Regions from separate parts of the Homo sapiens genome. Here region 2 is linked to region 1. The links come from fine-mapping of genetic effects on gene expression. A gene starts in region 1. The other region holds a variant in brackets. All regions are shown on one strand. Distances are from middle to middle.

Region 1 (16,921 bases):
CGGAGGCTGAGGCAGGAGAATCGTTTGAACATGGGAGGTAGAGGTTGCAGTGAGCTAAGATCGCACCACTGCGCTCCAGCCTGGGCAACAGAGCGAGACTCTGTCTCCAAAAAAAAGAAAAAGAGAGAGAGAGAACGAGAGAAAGAGAGAGCCAAGAATATCTCCACGGGATCATAGACAAACTGGGGGGAGGTGGTCAGGAATTCTGTGGACCTGTGCTTGGCAGCACCCACTCGAAGCAATCAGATTAACACCTGGAGTAGACCCAAAACATTCCCCACACGCACCCAGACCCATTGTCACAGGTACCAGGGGCTTAGCATAAGCTGTGGCCAGCACGGAACAAACGATAAGCCGCTCTGGCACAGCGGTGACTCCTAGGAAGCCAGGCTTAAAGATGACGTCAGAGCCATCCCCGGCCATCTGGAAGGCTGCCTGCCCAAAGCTGCGCCTTCTCGGGAGAAATCACAGGAAGAATGCCAAGCTACCAGTTCCTGACTGACCAGGGCAAAAGGGGAAATTCTCTGAATGGTGATAGCAGCCTCCAAGCCACACACACGTCCAGTGGGAAAGGGCAAAAATCTAACTGGCCAAGGGGCTTAAACACAACTTTTTTTTGAGAGAGAGACAAGGTGTCACTCTGTCACTCAGGCTGCTGGAATGGAGTGGCATGATCATGGCTCACTGCAGCCTTGAACTCCTGGGCCCAAGCAATCCTCCCACCTCAGTCTCCTGAGTAGCTGGGACTACAGGCATGCACCACCATGACTGGCTAATTTGTTTTATTTTTTGTAGAGATGGGGTCTCGCTGTGTTGCCCAGGCCCGTCTTGAATTCCTGGGCTCAAGTGCTCCTCCTGCCTCGGCCTCCCAAAGTGCTGGGATTACAGACATGAGCCACCGTGCCTGGCCAAGCACAATCTTTAACCATTAAGTGGCTTATGCTGACCCAGGGGCGACCCCTAGGTAGCCAAGTTAAAAGGTAAAAACAGGAAGAAAAAATCTGAGCAGGGACATCTGAGTCTGCATAGTGTGAGATGAGGATCGTAGTGGTGAAACTTGTTCAGCCCAGTCACAAAGTAATACATCACCTAGCAAACAACAGTAACCACAACCCCTGACTGGAGTTGGGGGAATCAAGTGTCAGAGTTGCTAAAATACATTATCTAAAACGTCCAGTTTTTGGCCGGGCGTGGCAGCTCACGCCTGTAATCCCAGCACGTTGGGAGGCCAAGGCGGGCAGATCACGAGGTCAGGAGATTGAGACCATCCTGGCTAACACGGTGAAACCCCGTCTCTACTAAAAATACAAAAAATCAGCCAGGTGTGGTGGCAGGCACCTGTGGTCCCAGCTCTCGGGAGGCTGAGGCAGGAGAATGGCATGAACCCAGGAGGCAGAGCTTGCAGTGAGCCAAGATCACGCCACTGCAATCCAGCCTGGGCGACAGAGCAAGACTCTGTCTCAAATAATGATAATAATAATAATAATTTTTAAAAAAATCCAGCTTTCAAGAAATAATTATGAGACATGCAAAGAAATAGGATTGGCTGGGCACAGTGGCTCATGCCTGTAATCCTAGCACTTTGGGAGGCCGAGGTGGGTGGATCACTTGAGGTCAGGAGTTCAACAACAGCCTGGGCAACATGACGAAACCCCATCTCTACTAAAAACACAAAAAAATTAACTGGGAATGGTGGCGTGAGCCTATAGTCCCAGCTACTCAGGAAGCTGAGGCATGAGAATGGCTTGAACCCCGGAGGCGGAGGTTGCAGTGAGCTGAGATTGCATCACTGCACTCCAGCCTGGGGACAGAGAGAGACTCCATCTCAAATAAATAAACAAATAAACTGCAAGACTTGTATATTTAAAACCACAAAACATTGTTGAAAGAAATCACAGACCTAAATAAATGGGAATACGTCCCATATTCATGGATCAGAAGACTTAATGTTGTGGGTTTTGTTTTTGTTTTTAGAGATGAAGTTCTTACTATGTTGCCCAGGATGGACTTGAGTATCTGAACTCAAATCATCCTTCTATTTCAGCCTCCAAAGTACCTGGCACTACAGGCATGTGCCACCATGCCCAGGACTTAATATTAAGATACCAATTGTCTCAAAAATTACTTACAGGGTCAACACAATTCCTATCAAAATTCTGACTGTAGTTTTGCAAAAACTGACAAGCTGGTCCTAAAATTCCTATGAAAATTAAGAAACCTGGAATAGCTAAAACAATCTGGAAGACAGACGTACCAAGTTAGAGGTCTCACACTTCCCAGTTTTAAAACTTACTGCAAAGCTACGGTAATCAAGACAGTGTGGTACTGGCATAAGGATAGACATTAGATCAATAGAATAGAACCAAGAGTCCAGAAGTAAGCCCTTATGTTTTTGACAAGTGTTTCAATTTGAGGGGGAAAGAATTGCCTTTGCAAACAAATGGTGCTGGGAAAACTGGATCGTGACCATTTTTTCTGATAGCAACTCAACTGTTAATTTTATTGAATGTCCCTTGTATGTGATGAGTTACACTTTTCTTGCTACTTTCACGATTCTCTTTGACTTTCAACACTTTGACTATCATGTGCCTAGCTGTTAATCGTTTTTTAGTTTATCGTACTTGGAGTTCATCAAACTTTTTGAATATTTAGATTAATATTTTTTAAATCGAATTCAGGAAGTTTTCACCCTCTATTTCTTCTAATATTCTTTCTCCCCCTCTTCTCAATCCTATCCTTCTGGGATTTGCATTATGCATATACAGATATTCCTCAACTTACAATAGAATTATGTCTTGATAAACCCATTTTAAGTTGAAAATATCATAAGTCAAAATGCATTCAATACACCTAGCCTGGCAAACATCATAGTTTATGGCCGGGTGCAGTGGATCACGCCTGTAATCCCAGCACTTGGAAAGGCTAAGACAGGAGGATCACTTGAGCCCAGGACTTTGAGATCAGCCTGGGCAACATAGGAAGACTCTGTCTCTACAAAAGAAAAAAAAATTAAATTAAACAATATGGCACTTCTGGAAATCAGATTCCTCTCTCCCCACTCCCTGGGGTTTGCTGTTGTTGTTGCTTGTTGCTGCTGGTGTTTGTTTAGTGACTTTTCTGGACTTTGTAAAATCTGTGTTCTTTGTTCTGTGCAACCACTGAAGACTTTGCTTAGTTATCTCAGTGGTCAGCTAATAACTGGACAGAGATATTCCTAGACGTCTACTTGCTTTGGCAGCACATACACTAAAATTAAAATGATACAGAGAAGATTATCTGACCCTTGTGCCAGGATTACACACAAATTCGTGAATTATTCCATATTTTTAAAAAAATGATTTAAAAAATTAAAAAGTGATCTTTTTAAATGCTTTAGACCATTAAGTTTCCCAGCATTTGCTGACAAACTCTGTGTGTGTTGAGGCATGTTTTCAATACTCCAGCAAGCAACTTACAACTCTGCCTTAGCCTTCATTTCCTCTTGTGCAGACACTCAAGGTCAGCCAGAGGTGAGAGTTTAGGACCTTCTCAGGTCTTCCTGGGTGTGCGCACAGCCCTGTACATGCACGTAGCCCACTAGATTCTCAGAAACACAGCAGGGGTTTTTTAAAGTATCTTATTGGCATCTCTTTTCCCAGTTATTCCTTTAAAAAATTTTTGATCAAGCCAGGCGCAGTGGCTCACGCCTGTAATCCCAGCACTTTGGGAGGCCGAGGCGGGGGATCACAAGGTCAGGAGATCGAGACCATCCTGGCTAACATGGTGAAACCCCATCTCTACTAAAAATACAAAAAATTAGCCGGGTATGGATGTCTGGAGCCCATTCCTTTGGCTTCAACTTTTCAGACAGTGTTATCTTGTAACTGTCCTTGAAGTGAGCTGCTAAGCAGAGGAAAACTTGTTCTTCTTTTCTTTTTAACCCTTGCCTTGCCACGGTTACACCACATCAGGTAGTTGAAATGTTAAACAATTGCCACTGATTGTTTTGGACAAATGCCTTGGGCATAGGGCTATTTGCACAGATACTGGCAAACTCTTGGATCAAATAAAGACAAGCTTTGAGAATAGCATTTTTCAGCAAACTGGCAGACAAGTCAAATAGTGACAGTTTTTGGGGGATGGGGCTTTTAGGGAGCTCCAAGCCCAGCCTGCCTCTTCCAGTGACTGGCAAGATGCTTGTTTTCACAGCTACCATGGTTAAAAGCCAGCCTATTTTCATGGATCTGGAAGAGAGGGATGCTTTTAGAGCAAATTAAAATGGCACAAAATCAGTGTTTATACTGAGATTCAGCCCTCTTACTTGAACATATACTCTTCAAATTGTTGCAAGCCTTTAGATAATTTCCAGGTCTGAAGAAATTGATTTTGACCATTTTTGTCAGCATTCTCTTTGCTTATATGGAGGAGTGAGTTTTTGGAGATTCTTGCTCCACTATTCTGGAAGCATTTCCTTTTATCCATTCAATATTTTTTGTTTCCATTGCCATTCTTTACATTTTTAAAATTTTATTGTAAATTGACCATGTGTGTATTTATGGTGTACAACGTGATGTTATGGCTTATGAATACAACGTGGAATAATTAAATCAAGCTAATTAATACATCCATCACCTCAAATATTTATATTTTTTGGTGGTGAGAACATTTAAAATTTATTTTCTTAACAATTTTTTTTTTGTTTTAGAGACAGGGTCTCACTCTGTCACCTAGGCTGGAGTGTAGTGGCATGATCACGGCTCACTGCAGCCTCAACGTCCCAGGCTCAAGAAATTTTCCCACCTCAGCCTCTCAAGTAGCTGGGACTACAGCTGTGCGCCACCATGGCTGGCTAATTTTTAAAATTGTTTTGCCGAGATGGAGCCCCACTATATTGCCAAGGCTGGTCTCTAACTCCAGAGCTCAAGTGATCCTCCCACCTTGGCCTTCCAAAGTGATGGGATTACAGGCGTGAGCCACCACGCCTGACCTCTTAACAGTTTTGAAATGTACTATACAGTGTTGTTAGTTATATTCACCAGGCTGTGCAATAGCTCTCAAAAAAGCATTCCTTCTTTCTAACTGAGATTTTGTACCTTTCTTTTTTTTTTTTTTTTTTTTTTTTGAGATGGAGTCTCGCTCTGTCGCCCAGCCTGGAGTGCAGTGGCGCGATCTCTACTCACTGCAAGCTCCGCCTCCAGGGTTCACACCATTCTCCTGCCTCAGCCTCCCAAGTAGTTGGGACTACAGGTGCCCGCCACCATGCCCGGCTAATTTTTTGTATTTTTTACTAGAGACGGGGTTTCATCGTGTTAGCCAGGATGGTCTCGATCTCCTGAACTCATGATCCGCCCGCCTCAGCCTCCCAAAGTGCTGGGATTACAGGCATAAGCCACCGCGTCTGGCCTGGCCTTTTTTTTTTTTTTTTTTTTTTGAGATGTAGTTTCACTCTGTTGCCCAGGCTGGAATGCAATGGCGCGATCTCCGGCTCACTGCAACCTCTGCCTCCCGGGTTCAAGCGATTCTCCTGCCTCAGCCTTCCGAGTAGATAGGATTATAGGTGCAAGCCACCATGCCCAGCTATCTTTTTGTATTTTTAGTAGAGACGGGGTTTTGCCATGTTGGCCAGGCTTGTCTTGAACACCTGACCTCAAGTGATCCAACCACCGCAGCCTACCAAAGTGCTGCGATTACAGGCATGAGCCACCGTGCCTGGCTCCCCACTCTATCTTAATAGCATTCTTAGGTTGTGAGATATTCAAGCTCTTCTGTGTTTTTTTTTTGTTTTTGTTTGAGATGGAGTCTCGCTCTGTCGCCCAGGCTAGAGTGCAGTGGTGTGATCTCAGCTCACTGCAACCTCCGCCTCCCGGGTTCAAGCTATTCTCCTGCCTCAGCCTCCTGAGTAGCTGGGATTACAGGCATTAGCCACCACGCCCGGCCAATTTTTGTATTTTTAGTAGAGATGGGGTTTTACCATGTTGGTCTTGAACTCCTGACATCAGGTGAACCACCCACCTCGGCCTCCCAAAGTGCTGGGATTACAGGCATGAACCACCGCGCCCAGCCATAGCCCTTCTTTTTAAAGAAACTAATGCTCAGCGAGGTTAAGTGACTGATGTAAAGTCATATATCCCCGGAGAACCAAGCCAGGGTTTGAACCCCAACACACCTGTTTGATATGAGTGTTCTGCATGTCCAGCCCTTCCTCCACTCATGTACCCTTTCACTCCAGTCCTTAGTTCCCTCCTCCACACCAGCTGTTTATCCCACAAGTTTATTTAGGCACTGATCTGTGGGAGGATTGCTCAGCTCCGAAGCTAGCAAATAAGGAGACTCCACGCACCTGCAGATGAGGGTTCTGCTCTCAGGTTGAAAGCAGAAAGTCTCTTCTCTCTGAGCTGGGCATCGGGCCGGTCACCTGGAGGAATCCCAAAGTGATGATAGAAGGCCCTGAGCATCCTTCCTGCTCTCCATGCCATCAGGAATGTCAGCTGATGCTGTCTCCAGGTGAGCCAAGACATGCAGGTGCATTCCTGCGTCACACGCAGGTCACGTCCCTGGCAGAAACCCAGCCTGCTCTCCAACAACACCCTTCTGGCAGTTCCCAATACCACGCAGATGATAGAGCAATTAAACAAAAGCTGGATGAGTGAGCAGCGGCTCTCAGCTCCAGCCCATCCTGGCCACCAGAAAAGGAGGACCAGGGTTTAGTTCTTGAGGTGAAACCAGCCCAATTGTCCCCATGGAACTGATGTTTATGGTTTCTTTGAATAAACATAGAAATTGATCCTCCCAGTCTTTTTTTTTCTTTCTTTTTTTCTTTTTTTTTTTTTTTTTTGAGACAGAGTCTCATTCTGTCACCCAAGCTGGAGTGCAGTGGTGTAGTCTCAGCTCACTGCAATCTGCCTCCTGGGTTCAAGCGATTCTTCTGCCTCAACCTCCTGAGTAGCTGGGATGACAAGCACCCTCCACCATGCCCGGCTAAGTTTTGCATTTTTAGTAGAGATGGGGTTTCACCATGTTGTCCAGGCTGGTATCGAACTCCTGACCTCAAGTGATCCACCTGCCTCGACCTCCCAAAGTGCTGGGATTACAGGCGTGAGCCACCGCGCCCAGCCATTCACATCTCTTTTGACTGAGAGCTTTACACTAAGATGAAGGAATTTTGACAATGGGCTCATGCGTTTGGGATTCACCATGTGCCCTATTACCCAGATGGATGGTAGAGTGGCCTACAGAAGGCTACTGAAGCAAGCCTATGGAAGGCTCAGTCATGACTGCAGCTAAGAGACCACATCCTGTAAGACTGGGCTGTTGTTCAATAATATGCAGTACACACCTGCAAACCAAGAGTGGAGGTGGTAGTTTTTCCTTGCATATAACATCTAATAACTCACTTAAGGAACTTTTGTTTTCATCTACCCAACTCAGGGCTTACTGGAGTTTGAGATCCTAACACACAAGGAATTCGCTTTTTTTTTTTTTTTTTTTGAGATGGAGTTTCGCTCTTGTTGCCCAGGCTGGAGTGCAATGGTGTGATCTTGGCTCACCACAACGTCCGCCTCCCGGGTTGAAGTGATTCTCCTGCCTCGGCCTCCCGAGTAGCTGGGATTACAGGCAGGTGCCACCACGCCCGGATAATTTTGTATTTTTAGTAGAGATGAGGTTTCTCCATGTTGGCCAGGCTGGTCTCGAACTACTGACCTCAGGTGATCCACCCGCCTCAGCCTCCCAAAGTGCTGGGATTACAGGTGTGAGCCACCTCACCCAGGCCATGGAATTCCCTGTTTTATCCCAGGGAACAGAGTTGTGGTTCTGGTCCATTGGAAACTGAGTCTACTTCGCGGTCATTTTGGGATCTTCATTCACTGAACCAATAGAGAGAGAAGGAGTTTCTGTTCCAGCTGGGATCATAGATTGCTATGAGCAAGGGAAAGTTGGGTTGCTGCTCAGAATGAGATCGAGGAGAACTATGTCTAGAACCCCGAGGATTCACTCAGGCACCTCTTTATGTATCTTCATTCACCAATAACCATGGCGGGTGAGACATGACTATACAGTGGTAAGTAAAGAAAGAGACTTTTTTTTTTTTTTTGAGACGGAGTCTTGCTCTGTAGCCCAGGCTAGAGTGCAGTGGTGCAATCTCGGCTCACCACAACCTCCGCCTCCTGGGTTCAAACGATTCTCCTGCCTCAGCCTCCCAAGTAGCTGGGACCACAGGCGCCCGCCACCGCGCCTGGCTAATTTTTTGTATTTTTAGTAGAGACGGGGTTTCACCATGTTAGCCAAGATGGTTTTGATCTCCTGACCTCATGATCCGCCCTCCTCGGCCTCCCAAAGTGCTGTGATTGGCAGACTTATTAAAGAAAGTATGAAAGTACATTACCAAGCCAGGTGCGGTGAATCACGCCTGTAATCTCAGCACTTTATTATGAATGCAGTAGCTATGAACATTCTTATTTATGTCTTTTAGTGAAAATATGCACTAATTCTACTGTATATGCACCTAGAAATGCATATACAGTGCATTTGGCCGAGTCAAAAGGTATATATATGTTTAATTTTAGTAAATAGACCGTGCGTGGTGGCCTGAGGTCAGGAATTCAAGACCAGCCTGACCAACAAGGTGAAACCCCGTCTCTACTAAAAATACCAAAATTAGCCGGGCGTGGTGGTGGGTGCCTGTAATGCCAGCTACTTGGGTGGCTGAGACAGGAGAATCGCTGGAACCTAAGAGGTGGAGGCTGAGGTTACAGTGAGCCAAGATTGTGCCACTGCACTCCAGCCTGGGCGACAAGAGCAAAACTCCATTTAAAAAACAAAAAAACAAAAAACAAAAACAAAACTTTAGTAGGTAGTGCCCAAGTTTTCCAAAGTGGTTGAAACAATTTAGACTTTCATCTTGCAGTGAGCCGAGATCGTGCCACTGCACTCCAGCCTGGGCAACAGAGCGAGACTCCATCCACAGTGTATGAGAGTTCCAATTGCGCTCTATGGTCATCCACACTTGGGATTGTCAGTTGCTTTAATTTTAGCCAATTTGGTGGATGCTTAGTAATACCTCATTTGCCCTTAATTTGCATTTTCTTTTTTTGTTTGTTTGTTTGGTTTTTTTGAGATGGAGTCTTGCTCTGTCATCCAGGCTGGAGTGCAGTGGTGTGATCCCGGCTCACTCCAACCTCTGCCTCCCAGGTTAAAGCGATTCTCCTGCCTCAGCCTCCCGAGTAGCTAGGACTATAGGTGCCTACCACCAGGCCCAGCTCATTTTTGTATTTTTAGTAGAGACAGGGTTTCACCGTGTTGGCCAGGCTGGTCTCGAACTCCTGACCTCAGGTGATCCTCCCACCTTGGCCTCCCAAAGTGCTGGGATTACAGGTGTGAGCCACCACACCCAGCCTTAATTTACATTTTCTTAATGAGTATTAACGATGACCACCTTTTCAGGTGCTCATTAACATTCTGATATCCTCTTTTGTGAAGTGCTTGTGTTCAAGTATTTTGCCCAGTTAAAAAAAAAAAAGCTGTCTATATTTTTCTTATTGATGCGCAGAAGTTCTGGGTATAATTCCTTTGTCAAAAATATATATATTGCAGGCCGGGCGTGGTGGCTCATGCCTGTAATCCCAGCACTTTGGGAGGCCAAGGCGGGCAGATCACGAGATCAGGAGATTGAGATCATCCTGGCCAACACAGTGAAACCTCATCTCTACTAAAACACAAAAAATTAGCCTGGTGTGGTGGCACACGCCTGTAGTCCCAGCTACTTGGGAGGCTGAGGCAGGGGAATCGCTTGAACCCTAGAAGCAGAGGTTGCAGTGAGCCGAGATCGCACCACTGCACTCCAGCCTGGTGACAGAGCAAGACTCCGTCTCAAAAAAAAAAAAAAAAAAAAAAAAAAAAAAAATATATATATATATATATATATATATATATATATATAAAATAAATATATGTATCTCTAAATCTTGCCTTTTCTTCCTCTCTTAATGGTCTCTTGAAAATAGCCCATTCTTCTCAATGTTGATGAAGGCCAATCTCTCATTTTGTGGTTACTACTTTTTTTCTTTTGAGACAGAGTCTCGCTCTGTCACCCAGGCTGGAGTGCAGTGGTGCGATCTCAGCTCACTGCAACCTCCACCTCCCGGGTTCACGCCATTCTCCTGCCTCAGCCTCTTGAGTAGCTGGGACCACAGGCACCAGCCACCACACCCGGCTAATTTTTTGTATTTTTAGTAGAGACGGGGTTTCGCCATGTCAGCCAGGATGGTCTCGATCTCCTGACCTCGTGATCTGCCTGTCTTGGCCTCCCAACATGCTGGATTACAGGCGTGAGCCACCGCGCCCGGCCTGTGGTTACTACTTTTTAAAGAACTTGTTTTGTTTTGAGACAGGATCTTGCTCTGTCACCCAGGCTGGAGTGTAGTGGCGCGGTCATAGCTCACTGCAGGCTTGAACTCCCAGGCTCAAGCCATCCTCCCGCCTTAGCCTCTGAAGGAGCTGGGACCACAGGCGCACACCACCACGCCCAGCTAATTTTTGTATTTTTGTAGAGACCGGGTTTCCCCATGTTGCCTAGTCTGGTTTCAAACTCCTGGACTCAAGCAATCCGCCTGCCTCAGCCTCCCAAAGTGTTGGGATTACAGGCATGAGCCAACACATCCGCTTTAAAGTACCTGTTTAGACTACTTTGTTTATCCCAAAATCATGAAGGCATTCTCGTTTCCTTCTAGAAATTCTATTGTTTTTACCTCTCACATCTAGGACTGTAATCCATCTCAAATTAATTTTTGAATATGGTGTGAGGTAGGGGTACTTATTCCTTTTATTGAAAAGACCATCCTTTCCTCAATGATTTCCAATGCGTTCTTGACCCTATAATTAGAATTAACTTCTGTAAGCACTCATTAGATCGTTCCACTTTCCTGCCTGTCTTTAACGGCAGACCATTGCTCTTATGGACAATAATCAGATAATGGTCAGTTCCTTGCGTAACAATACGCAGCTTGATCTGGCCACCTCCTGTCTCTCCTGCCAAATCTTGCCTTGTGTCTGCCTTTCCACTCTGAACATAGAGTTCTTTGGACAGGTCACACCCTCATCCTCAAGCCCTTCCCATATAGAGTGTTTTCATGCCCTTAGACTAGTTACTCAAACTTCAGGTCTCATCTCTTCCAGGAGCCTTCTCAATAGCACAGTCCCTGTCCCTTAAATATAGGTTGTGTGACTTCTATATATGCATTCATGGTCAGGCACAGTGGCTCATGCCTGTAATCCCAGCACTTTGGGAGGCCGAGGCAGGCAGATTACCTGAGGTCGGAAGTTCGAGACCAGCGTGACCAACATGGAGAAATCCCGTCTCCACTAAACATACAAAAATTAACTGGGCGTGATGGTGCACACCTGTAATCCCAGCTACTCGGGAGGCTGAGGCAGGAGAATCACTTGAACCCGGAAGGTGGACGTTGCAGTGAGCCGAGATTGCGCCATCGCACTCCAGCCTGGTCAAGAAGGTGAAATTCCGTCTCAAAAAAAAAAAAAAAAAAAAAAAAAATATATATATATATATATATATATATATATTCGCTCATTGTACCCCCGAGTTTCTAATTATATTTATTTATTTTATTTTTTGAGATGGAGTCTCACTGTGTCGCCCAGGCTGGAGTGCAGTGGCATGATCTCGGCTCACTGCAGCCTTCACCTCCTGGGTTCAAGCAATTCTCCCATCTCAGTCTCCTGAGTAGCTGGGATTACAGGGCCGTGCCACCACAACTGGCTAATATTTTACATTTTTCCTAGAGACAGGGTTTCACCATGTTGGGCAGGCTAGTCTCAAACTCATGACCTCAGGTGATCCACCTGCCTCAGCCTCCCAAAGTGCTGGGGTTACAGGCGTGAGTCACCATGCCCAGCCTATTTTATTTTACTTTTTAGATGGAGTCTCACTCTGTCGTCCGTCCAGGCTGGAGTGCAGAGGTGCAATCTCGGCTCACTGCAACCTCCACCTGTGGGGCTCAAGCAATTCTCCCACCTCAGCCTCCCTAGTAGCTGAGATTACAGGTGCCCACCACCATACCCAGCTAACTTTTGTACTTTTAGTAGAGACGGGGTTTCACCATGTTAGCCAGGCTGGTCTGGAACTCCCGACCTCAGGTGATCCACCCGCCTCAGCCTCCCAAAGTGCTGGGATTACAGGTAAGAGCCACCACACCTGGCCTTCTATTTATATTTAAATATCTCCCCATTATAACTTCTCTGAGGGAAAGGAGGAGGCCTATTTAGTTCACATGAGAGGTGCGTCCTAAATACTGTTGAATGAATGAATAAATTTAAGGGACGATTCTGTCCCAGGAACCCAGACAGTATGGACCTTGGAGAAACAGGACGTTTCCAGTCTCAGATCTAGCACTTGGCTAATAATTATTTCTGAGCCTCGATTTTCAAATCTGTAAAATTAAGATATACTATTCTCTACTTAGGATTGTAATGGGCATCAAATAAGATAATGTGGCTGGGCACAGTGGCTCACATCTGTAATCCCAGTACTTTGGGAGGCCGAGGTGGGAGCATCACTTGAGGCCAGGAGTGCGAGACCAGCCTAGGCAACAGAGTAAGACCCCCCCCGCCCCCACCCCATCTCTACAAAAAACTTAAAAGTTAGCAGGGTGTGGTGGCATGCATTTGTGGTCCCAGCTACTTGGGAGGCTAAGGTGGGAGGATCGCTTGAGCCTGAGTTTGAGGCTGCAGTGAGCTGTGATTGAGCCTCTGCACTCCAGCCTAGGCAACAGAGCGAGACCTTGTCTTTCAAAATAATAAAATGATAAGGTAATGCGCAGAAGCATTCAGCACAGTGATTGGCACATGGAGGGCCCATTGGGGTGTTTTTGTTTTTGTTTTTGTTGTTGTTTGAGACAGAGTCTCGCTCTATGGCCCAGGCTGGATGGATTGCAGTGGCATGATCTCGGCTCACTGCAATCTCCGCCTCCTGGGTTCAAGCGATTATCTTGCCTCAGCCTCCCGAGTAGCTGGGATTACAGGCGTACACCACCAAGCCCGGCTAATTTTTCTTGTATTTTTAGTAGAGACGGGGTTTCACCATGTTGGCCAGGCTGGTCTCGAACTTCTGATCTTAGGTGATCCGCCCGCCTTGGCCTCCCAAAATGCTGGGATTACAGGCCACCGTGCCTGGCCATTGAGTGTTATTAAGAGGAGGGTACGCAGAAAACAGACTCCCGCCAGCTCTGCCCCATGCGCATGAGCGGCCGCCGCTCGCCCTCAGCCAGGCCCAGCGCGCCCCGACGCGTCCCCACGCCTGCGTGATCCACCGGAACCCAAGCCCAGGCAGGCGGTGAGAGGGCGGGGCCTCCGCAGTGCGACTGCGCCGCTCGAGGCCGTGCGTCGCGGGGGCGGGGCCGCGCAGGCGTACCGGGTGCCCCGGCTCTGGAGCATAAACAAGAGCGGGGACGGGATGAGGCGGCGGTTGATCCCAGGGTGGCGAGTGGCGGCGACCGAGGCGGCGAGCGGGGCCCGGCGCCGACCCTGAGTGCAGCCTGACCCGCCCTCGCGCGCGCGCCCTCCCCGGCCGGGCCCACTCGCCGCGCGCCCAGCCATGAACCTGGCGAGCCAGAGCGGGGAGGCCGGCGCCGGCCAGCTGCTCTTCGCCAACTTCAACCAGGACAACACGTAAGGCCGGGGTCGGGGGTCGGAGTCGGGGTGAGGCCAGGGTCGGACCCGGGCTAGGGGGAGGGCCTCGCTGCCAAGCTCGGCGGCGTCGCAGGCTCGGCCTCCCCGCGGGCCAAGGCGCGCAGAGGCGTCCCCAGGGGCGGGCCCGGGGCGTGCAGGGAGGGGCGCCCTCCAGGGAGACCCTCGGGTGCTGGCCTGGAGCTGCGGTCCCGGAGCGGGAGAGGTGGTGGAGAGGGGGCTGCTTTCACCCTCTTGCGGGGAGGCCCCCTGGCTTCAGACTTAACTACTTCTCGCAAAGTTGGGGCCGAACTTTGGGGCTTGACTTGTCTTGGCCGCCTGTGGAGCGCTGGGTGTGGGTCGCTTCCTCTCCTCTCGTCTCCTCTTCCCGCTGCTTGCTCAGCGTCTCCCACTCACTCTCCTTTGAATCAGGCCCTTCTCCTTGTCTTTTCATCGTCTTAAGACCCTTCTCTCTCTCTTGATTTTCTTTTCTTCGTTTCTCACTGTTTTTTTGTTTGTTTTTGTTTTTTGGGGTTTGTTTTGTTTTGAGACAGAGTCTTGCTCTGTTGCCCAGGCTGGAGTGCAGTGGTGCCATCTCAGCTCACTGCAACCTCCGCCTCCTGGGTTCAAGCGATTCTCCTGCCTCAGCCTCCCGAGTAGCTGAGACTACAGGCACGCGCCACTGTGCCCAGCTAACTTTTTTGTATTTGTAGTAGAGACAGGGTTTCACCATGTTGGTCAGGCTGGTCTCAAATTCCTGACCTCAAGTGATCCGCCCACCTCAGCCTCCCAAAGTGCTGGGATTACAGGTGTGAGCCACCGTGCGCGGCCCTCCCTGTTCTTTTTGGGACATCAACTTTGATGTCTTCTCCAGCAAGTAACAAACTTAGCAATAACCTTGGCATCTGACCTAGCTAGGGAGAAACTGAGCCAAGAGAGGCGTTACGGACCAGTGCCCCAGGAGTCTCAGAGCTCCAGCGGGTGGGTCATCCTCAGGGCAAGAGAAGGCCTTAATGCCAGCCCGTGCATTCGGAACGCTGTTTGTCCCCACTGATACGGGTTGGATGCTGCCTGGGAGGAGGACTTGTGGGGATGGTTAATAGATGAGCGAGCTTTCTGGAGAGAGAAGGGTGAGTTATGGGGTTGGCAGGGAGGAGAGCCATCTTGGAAGTGAGTAAGAGGAAGTGAGGAAAGAGAAGGAGTGGGGCATTTGGCATCTTACTAAGTCATTGGTTGAGTTGTTACTGGCTGAGTGGAATTAACATAGCAGAAGGTAAGATTCTTTAGGAAATTAAAAGTGAATTGTAGAATGGACAACACTCAGTGGGTGGTGTACAGCAGGCACTCAATAGCACCTCCCCAAAGCTGTGAAGACAGTCGCACAGTGGGACTGTATTGAGAGTCGGAAGGGGCAAATCACCTCATCCAACTACAGATGAGGAAATCCTTCCGAAAGGCTCCAAGCTGGTCTGGGTTTTGGAATTGGTTAATAGTGGAGCGGGGGCAGGAGTGGAATCTCGCCTCCTGAGCTCTCTTCCAATGTTCTTTCTGCTCTGCCATGCTGTTTTTTTTTCTGTTTACAGAGTAGAATTCTGAAGACAGTGAATTTAGAAATAATAGCATAACAACGTGTAAAGATGAAAACTCCCAAGTACTGTAGCGTTCTGTGTGACCAAAAGCCAGAACAACAAACAATTCGGACAACCTGTTGCAGTTCAAGTGGAATAGACTATGTTAATCCAGATAGGGAAAAGGACACATCCCAAACCAATTCTAATTTGGTTTTTAAGCCCAAGGCCACAGTATTTTGAGACCAGTAAGAAATGGTAGTAGTAGTAGGGTGGTTTATGCCTTGTATAAATTAGAGAGTTTCCAAAACATTGTCGGCCACTCTTTCAGTTTTTCACTAATTATTTCTATCAGAATGAAATCAAATAGAGAAAAGCATTCTCTTTTACTGTTACTTCAGCTGGACTGCCATGTTCCCTGTGTCACAGAAGAGTGTCACTCTGGCCTGAAATAGGACCTTTTCACACTTGGACATTTTCACACTTACCCACTTCTCCATGCTCCCCGAAGTTATTACAGTTCAAGAGATTTCTGTTACTTTGAGATTTCATAACTTTGACTTGCCAGAGAGACCTTGATGTAGTGTAAACCTAAATTGGAATGAATAGTAAGCTAGGATTATACTAGAAGTTGACTGGGCTAAAATGACGGTAATTTGTTTTAAATCTACACTTGAAAGAAATAGAGAAGTTCCCGGAGAGAGCTTTTATGGCTTATACCTTTTCCTCCCTTCTTAATCTCCAGAATTTATTGAGGAGCACAATTTTTAGCAAGTGAAAGAATGACCGTCTAGAACTCACATTTACTGTATGCAGTGAGAAAATTTGGAAGCCAGTTCACTTACTAGAATATATATGTTATAGGGTCATTTCCCTTTTTTTTGTCTTTTAAATTCTTTTTGTATTTGTTACATACCAAACTATAACTGTCCTGCCTTTCTTTACTGGTAATATGATTTCCAATGTCGTACTTTTTCATGATTCCTATCCTAAAAGTGTGCATAAGTTTTATTTGTTTTTTACCATTTGTTTTTTGTTTTGTTTTGTTTTTTTACCTAGAGAAGTGAAAGGGGCATCAAGAGCAGCTGGTCTTGGCCGTCGCGCTGTTGTCTGGTTAGTTCCAACCCTGGTTTCTGAAAGTATCACCTTGGAAGGCTTATGTTAGAGGACTTTTTTGGCTTTTTGAAATTGCAGTGAACCAGTTAATAAGTGGGAGAGGATCACTTGAATCTGAAATGGAAATATCAAGGACTACATTTTTCCAGTGGATACCACAGCTTGTGGGAAGTTAGTGATGTAGCAATGTCTGTTTTAAATGCCATGTCTAAAAGGGATGGAATGAAGAAAGGGACTTGACTTTCCAAGTCTTGTGTTTGTAGAATTGATGTTATGAAGTGTGTGGAGACAACAGGAGAAACCTGTTGTTTTCTTCCACCATGTCTCTTCTAGGTTATGCTTATTGTGCTGGGAAGGTACTGCTCTCCTCTCTTTGTTCATCTGTAAATCAAGGGTTTGGGTTTTTGTTTTTGAGATGGAGTCTCACTGTTGCACAGTTTGAAGTGCAGTGGCATAGTTATAATGATCATAGCTTACTGCAACTTTGAGTTCCTGGGCTCAAGCGGTCCTCCTGCCTCAGCCTCCCGAGAAACCGGGACTACAGGCGTAGGCCCCACACCTGGCTAATTTTTTTTTTAGTT
Region 2 (8,000 bases), 27 kb after region 1:
ACCTCCCAAAGTGCTGGGATTACAGGCGTGAGCCACCACACCCAGCCTCCTCACCAACTTTTGATATTACTAGTTTTTTTCTTTTCAGCCCTTCTGATGTGTGTATAATGATAACTTCATGGTTTTAATTTGAATTTCTCAGGTAACTAATGATGTTGAACATTTTCATGTGCTTGTTGGCCGTTTATATATCTTCCTCTGTGACATGTCTGTTCCAGTCTTTTGTTGCTTTTTAGGTTTGGTTGTTTATCTTTTTATTATAGAGTTGTTAGAGCTCTTTAGATATTCTGGATACCAGTCCTTTGTCAGATATGTTTTGTGACTATTTCTCCTAGTCTGTGGCTTGCCTGTTTTCTTTCTTTGAGCAAATGGTTTAAATTTTGATGCAGTCATATTTATGTTGTTTTTTTTTTTCCTTCCATTTATGGTTTTTGCTTTCTAGGCCCTGTCCAGGAAACTTTTGCCTACCCTGTAGTCAGGAAGGTGTTTTCCTATGTGTTCTGTGAAAGCTTTATATAGTTAACACTATACATAAAAGCTAAAGTTTTTATATTTAAGTCAATAATCTATCTCATTAATTTTTATGTATGTTGTGAGGTATGAATCAAGGTTGTTTTTTTCCTAATGGATTCCTATTCCATCATCATTTGTTGAGAAGATTTTTCTTCCCTCCTGGGATTGCTTTGGTGCTTTACAGTCCTGTGACCTGTGAGTCTGTTTCTGGACTCTTTAGTCTCTTCTAATGATCTATTTGTCAGTCTTCAACTTTGTTCTTTTTCAGGATAGCTTTGCATTTTCTAGTTTCTTTTCCTTTCCATATAAAATTTAAAATCCACTTTGTCTGCAAAAGAGCCTGTTGGGATTATGATTAGGATGGGATTGGACCTAGAGATCAGTTTGAGGGTTGATACGTTAATAATATTGAGTACCCAGAATATGGTATATCTCTTCATTTATTTAGCTCTTTTTAAATTTGTTTTGGTAATATTCTGTGATTTTTTTTTTTTTTTTTTTTTGGTATGGAGGTCTTACATCTTTTGTAAAATTTATTCCTAATACTTTGGATTTTGACATTATCATAAAAGAAAATTATTTCACTGAGTTTTCCAGTTTGCTGCTGGCCTAAACATATAGTTAATTTTTTATATTTTAATCTTGTATCCTATGACTTTGCTAAATTCATATATTAAATAGTTGCTCCATAGATTCCTTAAGATGGCAGTGAAGGCTGTTTGATGTCTTGCTTTCTAATGTTTGTGCCTTTTATTTCTTTTTCTTGCCTCACTGCAACGTGTAAGACCTCGAGCACAAAGTAAGGAGAGTGGGTATCCTTGCCTTGTTTCTAGTCTTAACGGGAAGAGATCAAATATCTTCACCATTAAGTACAGTGTCAGCTGTAGATTTTCTTAACTGTTTCTTAACCTTCATCAGTGAAAGAAGGTTCTTCCTAATTCCAGGTTTCTTAGGTTTCTACCATGAATGAGCATTGCATTTTCTCATGCTTTTTCTGCATCTGTTGGGTTGGCACAGTCTTTCTCTGTGCAGTTGAATTGGAATTTATCACCACCTCTAATGGCGACTTGCTCTTTGAGATGATCGTCTCATACTGTTCTCACTTTGAAATCTCCCACCTCCATCCCATCACAGTTAACACCTGCTGCTGCTTCAAGAGAGGTTGGTGCTGTCGGTCTGGGGCTCCCTTCTCTTTCCTTCTTCAGGTGACCAGCCCCCTAAGTGGTTTGTTCCTCCAGGCAAGCAGTCTCAACCATAAATCCATCTCAGTATATCTAGTAGCTCCTGTATTTGAAGACAGAAACTTCCCTTGCCCATGCATATCCCCCAGCCCCTCCCATATTTCTACTTCTCCAGAACATAACTTCTTTTTTTGTTTTGTTTTTTTGGTTTTTTTGGTGGAGTCTCGTTGTGCTGCCCATGCTGGAGTCTGGTGGTGCCATCTCGGCTGGCTGCAACCTCCGTCTCTCAGGTTCAACTGATGCTCCTGCCTCAGCCTCCCAAGTAGCTGGGATTACAGGCGCCCACCGCGATGCCCGGCTCATTTTTTGTATTTTTAGTAGAGATGGGGTTTCATCATGTTGGCCAGGCTGGCCTCGAACGCCTGACCTCAGGTGATCTGCCTGCCTCAGCCTCCCAAAGTGATGGGACTCCAGGCGTGAGCCCCTGCGCCTGGCCTGTAGCATAACTCCTATAGATAGTTGCCTAAGTTTTTTTCCACTTCTCATTCTCTTTCATGTTTCAGCCATTCTTCCTACACATCTCCATCAAAATATGTCAAGGTCGCCATATAAGCTCCTCGTTCCCAGACTCAGGGGACGTGTCTCATTTCCTCTTCCCTCCTCTGCAGTGCTGGGCACAGTTACCTGCTTGCTGTTCTTCAGATGCCCTCTTCTGTTGACTTCCATCTCATACACGGTCTTGGCTTTTCTCTTACTCAATCTCCTTTGCTGACCTTTGGCAGTTTCGGTGCCACACAGGGCCCTGGGCCCACATCTCTTTGGCCTCCTCTCCGTGATGGCAGGCACTGCCCTGTTTACCACTGTATACTTGGGATGGTCTCTACTGGTGTAGGATCTGCTGTTTGTGTTGAATGGGTGAAGTAAATAAGTCAAGTTTTACCAAGCAAAGCAGTAAGAACCTATTCTTTGAAAAAAAATAAAAATACAGTTGATTCTTGTTGTTCACAGTTCTAGTCTGTAAGTCTCTGGGACGCTGGATTAGCGAATCATGAAGTGTTGCTCCCAGGGGAAGGATTGGTAGGTGGCCTCTGGTCGCAACATTTTCATCAGCTGATCAAAAGACAACCTCGTTTTGTGTGTGCTTCCCTGCCTCAAGACATGCTGACGTAATGGGGATTGTTGGTTCACTAACATTGAACTCGCGGCTCGCATAGAACTCAGCCCACACATGTGCTTTCTCCGCGGGGTACATCCCAGGCTGCTTGTGCTTAGGGATACTCGACGACACTCAGCACTGTGCCAGGGCCAACAGTGAAATCAACAACAAGCACAAAAGTGCAAAAAGCAGACACTCAGTAGCCCTATGTAGACCAGGAAAAGGACAGTTGTTTTCAGAATCAACACGAGAAGATAGGACGTTGCCCTGTGTGACCTCAGCCAGGAACATGTGCATCATGTGACTCAAATCTTTTCCCGAGGCTGGGAGCGGTGGCTCACGCCTGTAATCCAAGCACTTTGGGAGGCTGAGGCGGGTGCATCACCTGAGGTCAGGAGTTCAAGACCAGCCTGGCCAACATGGTGAAACCCTGTCTCTACTAAAAATACAAAAATTAGGCAGGCGTGGTGGCATGCAACTGTAGTCCCAGCTACTCAGGAGGCTGAGGCAGGAGAATTGCTTGAACCCGGAAGGCAGAGGTTGCAGTGAGTCGAGATCACGCCATTGCACTCCAGCCTGGGCAACAAAAGCAAAACTCTGTCTCAAAAAAATAAAATCCCACTTCGCATGTGTCTACGGACGGCTGTAAAACACCGTGAGTGTTTATGCGGGGTCACAAAGAAACCTTACCTAGCAGGTGAGTTCACAGATACTGAGCCTGTGCATGTTGAGGAGCAGCCCTATTTGGAAGTAAGTTCTTTTCACCACTGATTGGATTTAGGAGGCCAGTGGAGAGGCCAGTGGATTTAAATAAAATTGTACTTAATAAAAAACCAGTTTTGTGTATACCAGGTTTTCCTATGTGTCCCAACCCTGAAGTTAATGAAGCTGAGAGTCCAACTCTTCTTTCACCATTCAGGAAGTAGATATCAGGCCTTACAGCTAATTAGAGCAGAGCTGAGACTGGAATGTGATTGTTAAACTCGCCTTCCTGCAGGGTCGCCGTGGCACCCAGTACTCACCAAGGTTGCAGTGCCGCACACACGCCCAGTACATGTGTTAGGACGCGTGCCGCTGAGCTTCACCAAGAGCACTTCTGCCTCTTGGATGTAGCACTGGGGTTAACAGCATTTCACCACCCACTGAAACTGAATGGCACAGAGATTGAGTTTTGTTTTTTGTTGCTGTTGTTGTTGTTTTGATGTTTTTAAAACAACACCATTTGGGGAGTTTGGGGAATATCCAAAATCTGGTCATAAGGTCCATTCCATCCGTTCAGCCAGTGTGGAAGGAGCTCCTCGTCTATGACAGGCGACATTAGACCTGGGGGTGGTGCAGCCGTGAATGGGCCAAACACGGCACCTGTCCTCAGACCATCAGTCCAGCAGGGAACTCTGTCTCTCAGCCATTGCCTAGATTCTCAGTGGTAAGCGCGGTGACTACTAGAGGCAACAGGTACAGGATGCAACCGGGCCAGTGCGTGCAGCCCCTAATACTACCAAGTACTACCTGAGAATGGGGTGCCTGGAGAGTGAGAGGCTAGACAGTGGCCGGGGAAGGGCCTTGTGCCC[C/T]TGGATTTGCACATCTGGCTGCCGGATTTGAGAAGTGAGGGTGGCAGCCTCAGGACACCAGCCATGATCATCATTCAGTCCTACCCTCCTTTTTGGGGCAGGACTGGTATTACAGACAGGGTCTCGCTCTTTTGCCCAGGCTGGCATGCAGGAACGTGATCACCGCTCATTGCAGCCTCAACCTCCTGGGATCAGGCACTCTTCCTACCTCAGCTACACAGGCATGCACCACCACGCCCAGCTAATTTTTGTATTTTTTGTAGAGATAGGACCTCACTATGTTGCCCAGGCTGGTCTCGAATTCCTGCCCTCAAGCAATCCTCCCACCTTGGCCTCCCAAAGTGCGGGGATTACAGGTGCGAAGCACCGCATCTGGCCCCAGCCCTCTTTCTCGCCCACCGCCTAGCAAGCAGGGCTGCCGTGACTTAGTATCCATGTCAATCTCCTGAGGGAAAGAGGGGACTGGTCAGAGAACCAGGGTCTGATCTTTAGAGAAATTATTTTTACTGCAAATAATTGACATTCTGGGTTATGCACCATCTCTTCTGAGTTGGGTTGGCCTCGTGTCTGAGTGGTGCTGCATGCCAGGTGCTAGAGGTGTATCCGCTGACAAAGATTCCTGTGTCCACGCACTGGCATGATCCCTCCTGATCGTGCCTTTCGTTGACAGATCCTGGAAGACGGTGGCCGCTAGTCTGAGATGCTGCTGAGCAGAGAAGCTGCAGACAGAGCCTGTCCTCCCTGGCCCCCCGACCCTGCCACCATCTCCCCATTTGTGGCAGACGCTTGCATCTGTTCCTTTTGAATGAAGGTCGCTTGCTGTTGTCAGAAAGAAGGTTTATGACAGCTTTCTGGTAAAAGCAACTGAAAAGACACTGAATGGATGCTGTGAAGAGCTTAGGATGATGTACTTGTGTTTATGGCCCGTTCCATTTGAAGTGGTGTCGCACTGCAGGATGGCGCGTAGGTCAGCGAGGGGCCGCGGGTGCGAGGGTGGTCCTGTGAGAGGAGCAGGCCGTGTTTTTGCTGCAGCTTTCCCATGTTTCATTCACACACACAAGTACTTGTCACTGTGCTGCAGCTGGCCACAGTATCCAGTTAGTCACACGCAGCGCAGGTCTGTAGCCAGGAGCCACAGGCCACAGCATACAGCCTAGGGGCATAGTAGGCCTACCATCTAGATTTGTGTTTGCACGACACAATTGCCTACGGGGCTTTTCTTTGTTTTGTTGTTGTTGTTGTTGTTGTTGTTGTTGTTGTTTTTGAGATGGAGTCTCGCTCTGTGGCCCAGGCTGGAGTGCAGTGGCGCGATTTTGGCTCACTTCAAGCTCCGTCCCCCGGGTTCACACCGTTCTCCTGCCTCAGGCTCCTGAGTAGCTGGGACTACAGGCGCCCGCCACCACGCCTGGCTGATTTTTTGTATTTTTAGTAGAGATGGGGTTTCACCATGTTAGCCAGGATGGTCTTAATCTCCCGACCTTGTGATCCACCCACCTCGGCCTCCCAAAGTGCTGGGATTACAGGCGTGAGCCACCGCGCCCGGCCCCTTCAGGGCATTTCTTAGAACGTATGTCAGCGTTTTGTGACATGAGTGTAATAGCGACATCTTTTTAATAAATATGTGTCATGCCACTTTGGACATGTGTGATTCTTTGGCCAGCCTCAGTATGCGAGCACGTAGGCTAGCGCTCAGCACATGAGTCTATGGAACCCAGGGGAAGCAATTGCAGTTTCGTAGTAGTTTGTGTCTTAATTAAGGGAGCCCCTAGACCTTACTCTTTCACTTTACCTAGGAGTTTGGTTCCTAAACTCACCATTCAAATCCAGCAACAGAACTGACTGAAAGGAACCTTTGTCTTTCGTGTGAATGCTCGTGAGGGGCCATCCTTAGAGTGGAAATGCTCCTGAGGCTCCAGCGAATCAAGACCCTCAGACCCCCGGGCTGTCCCCACCCCATGACCACATGTTCCGCAGGCACCCTCAGCGCTGTGCCCTGCGTGTCGCCCAGGCAGGTGTTTGTTTTTGAGCGCAGATTCTGCCTGTGGCCATAGCCATGTGGAGATGTTCACGCATGTACTTCCCTTTGTGATTTCAGCCGATACGGAAGATGTGTGCATTGTAGAGAGATTGTTCTCCAGCAGCCTAGTGGCCATCGTCAGCCTTAAAGCACCAAGGAAGCTAAAGGTTTGCCACTTTAAGAAGGGAACTGAGATCTGCAACTACAGCTACTCCAACACGATTCTGGCTGTGAAGCTCAACAGGCAGGTGAGCGCTGCCCCAGCTGGGTGTGGGCTTGTCTGTTGCTCCCTCCAGCACTCTGGGACAAGCCCACCCCACCGGCATGCCCCTCCGTCATTCCCTTGCTGCCTGGCCCCACGTTGCCGGGCACAGATCCTTGCCTACAGAGACCAGCTCTGTTTCCTCACCCACCAGCTTTGCTCAGCCCATTCCATTCACGACAAATGCCCGGGCCTCTGCCACACTGCTCCCATACAGGCGTCCCCGGCCCCACCCAGAGGGTGGATGGCAGTCTCTTTCACCTATTACCTGGTTTTGCTTTTATAAATGTTACTTAAAAAAAATATATTTGGCCGAGCACAGTGGCTCACGCCTGTAATCCCCACACTTTGGGAGGCCGAGGCGGGCAGATTGCCTGAGGTCAGGAATTTGAGATCAGCCTGGCCAACATGATGAAACCCCGTCTCTACTAAAAATACAAAAATTAGCCGGGCATGGTGGCAGGCACCTGTAATCCCGGCTACTCGGGAGGCTGAGGCAGGAAAATCGCTTGAACCCGGGAGTCGGAAGTTGCAGTGAGCCAAGGTCATGTCATTGCACTCCAGCTTGGGCAACAAGAGTGAGACTTCGTCTCAAAAAAAAAACTTACAGACTTTTTTTTCCTTTTGTAAATTGTTAGTTTAACTTTGAATTCAAGATGAAGGATTTATTACTTTATCTCCCCCTAAACTAATAAGACTGTCTGGCACAGAGGAAGGACGTGGTGGGTGGCATGTGTGCGTGTTTCACGCACGTGTGTGTGTCTCCCAGCTTGTGCTCACGCCCAGGGTAACAGCACCACCCGGGAGACCCCTGGCAATCTGATTCTGCCCGCACTCCCTGCAGGGAAAGCTGATTAGGCTGCTGGCTGTAGAGTGGACATGATGACAGCCAGTAGCTGCACCCTGAGATACAGTGACTAGGTGAAGTCACAGTAGAGACGTTCTTGCCTTACGCAGTTGAAACTAGGAAGTGGTCTGTTAACTGACATAGTTGGTTAGAATGGGAAATTATAAGACATCATATCTTGAGCATTTAAAAATTGTGTTCACGTCCAACTAATGTAGAGCTGGTCATCTTTCTTGCATAAGTTGTCTCAGCGATGCATCGTCTGCATGTCTACATTCATTTTCTTCCAAATGGAGCAGGAACTTGCAAAGTAATCTGAGTGCACAATAAAATGTTAGACCTTTTAAAACCCCCTTATTTTCATTTTACCTGTGCTGCACTCAGCATCAGTTTTAAAAAGCAAATCTTTCCAAATCTATTCACAGCACACTTGTCTTAGCTGTAGGTTAGCAT

The links. PIP is the estimated chance that this variant, and not a neighbour inherited with it, causes the effect. A credible set is the group of variants that fine-mapping cannot tell apart.
Region 2: its variant is the best candidate, but not a certain one, in a credible set for the expression of WIPI2 in whole blood (INTERVAL, PIP 0.72).

What each region holds. Positions count from the first base shown.
Region 1 is chr7:5,176,835-5,193,755 of GRCh38, forward strand. It overlaps WIPI2 (WD repeat domain, phosphoinositide interacting 2), which reads left to right and starts at 13,399. Exons shown (of 13, transcript NM_015610.4): 1 at 13,399-13,659; 2 at 16,284-16,337. The coding sequence starts at 13,586. It also overlaps the pseudogene RNU6-215P. RefSeq lists silencers at 6,171-6,371, 10,381-10,510, 13,184-13,833, 13,844-13,893.
Region 2 is chr7:5,208,019-5,216,018 of GRCh38, forward strand. It overlaps WIPI2 (WD repeat domain, phosphoinositide interacting 2), which reads left to right. Exons shown (of 13, transcript NM_015610.4): 4 at 6,517-6,686. Among named protein-coding and RNA genes, the nearest start is that of WIPI2, 22 kb to the left of the region's middle. The variant C/T (reference allele first, on the strand shown) is at 4,422.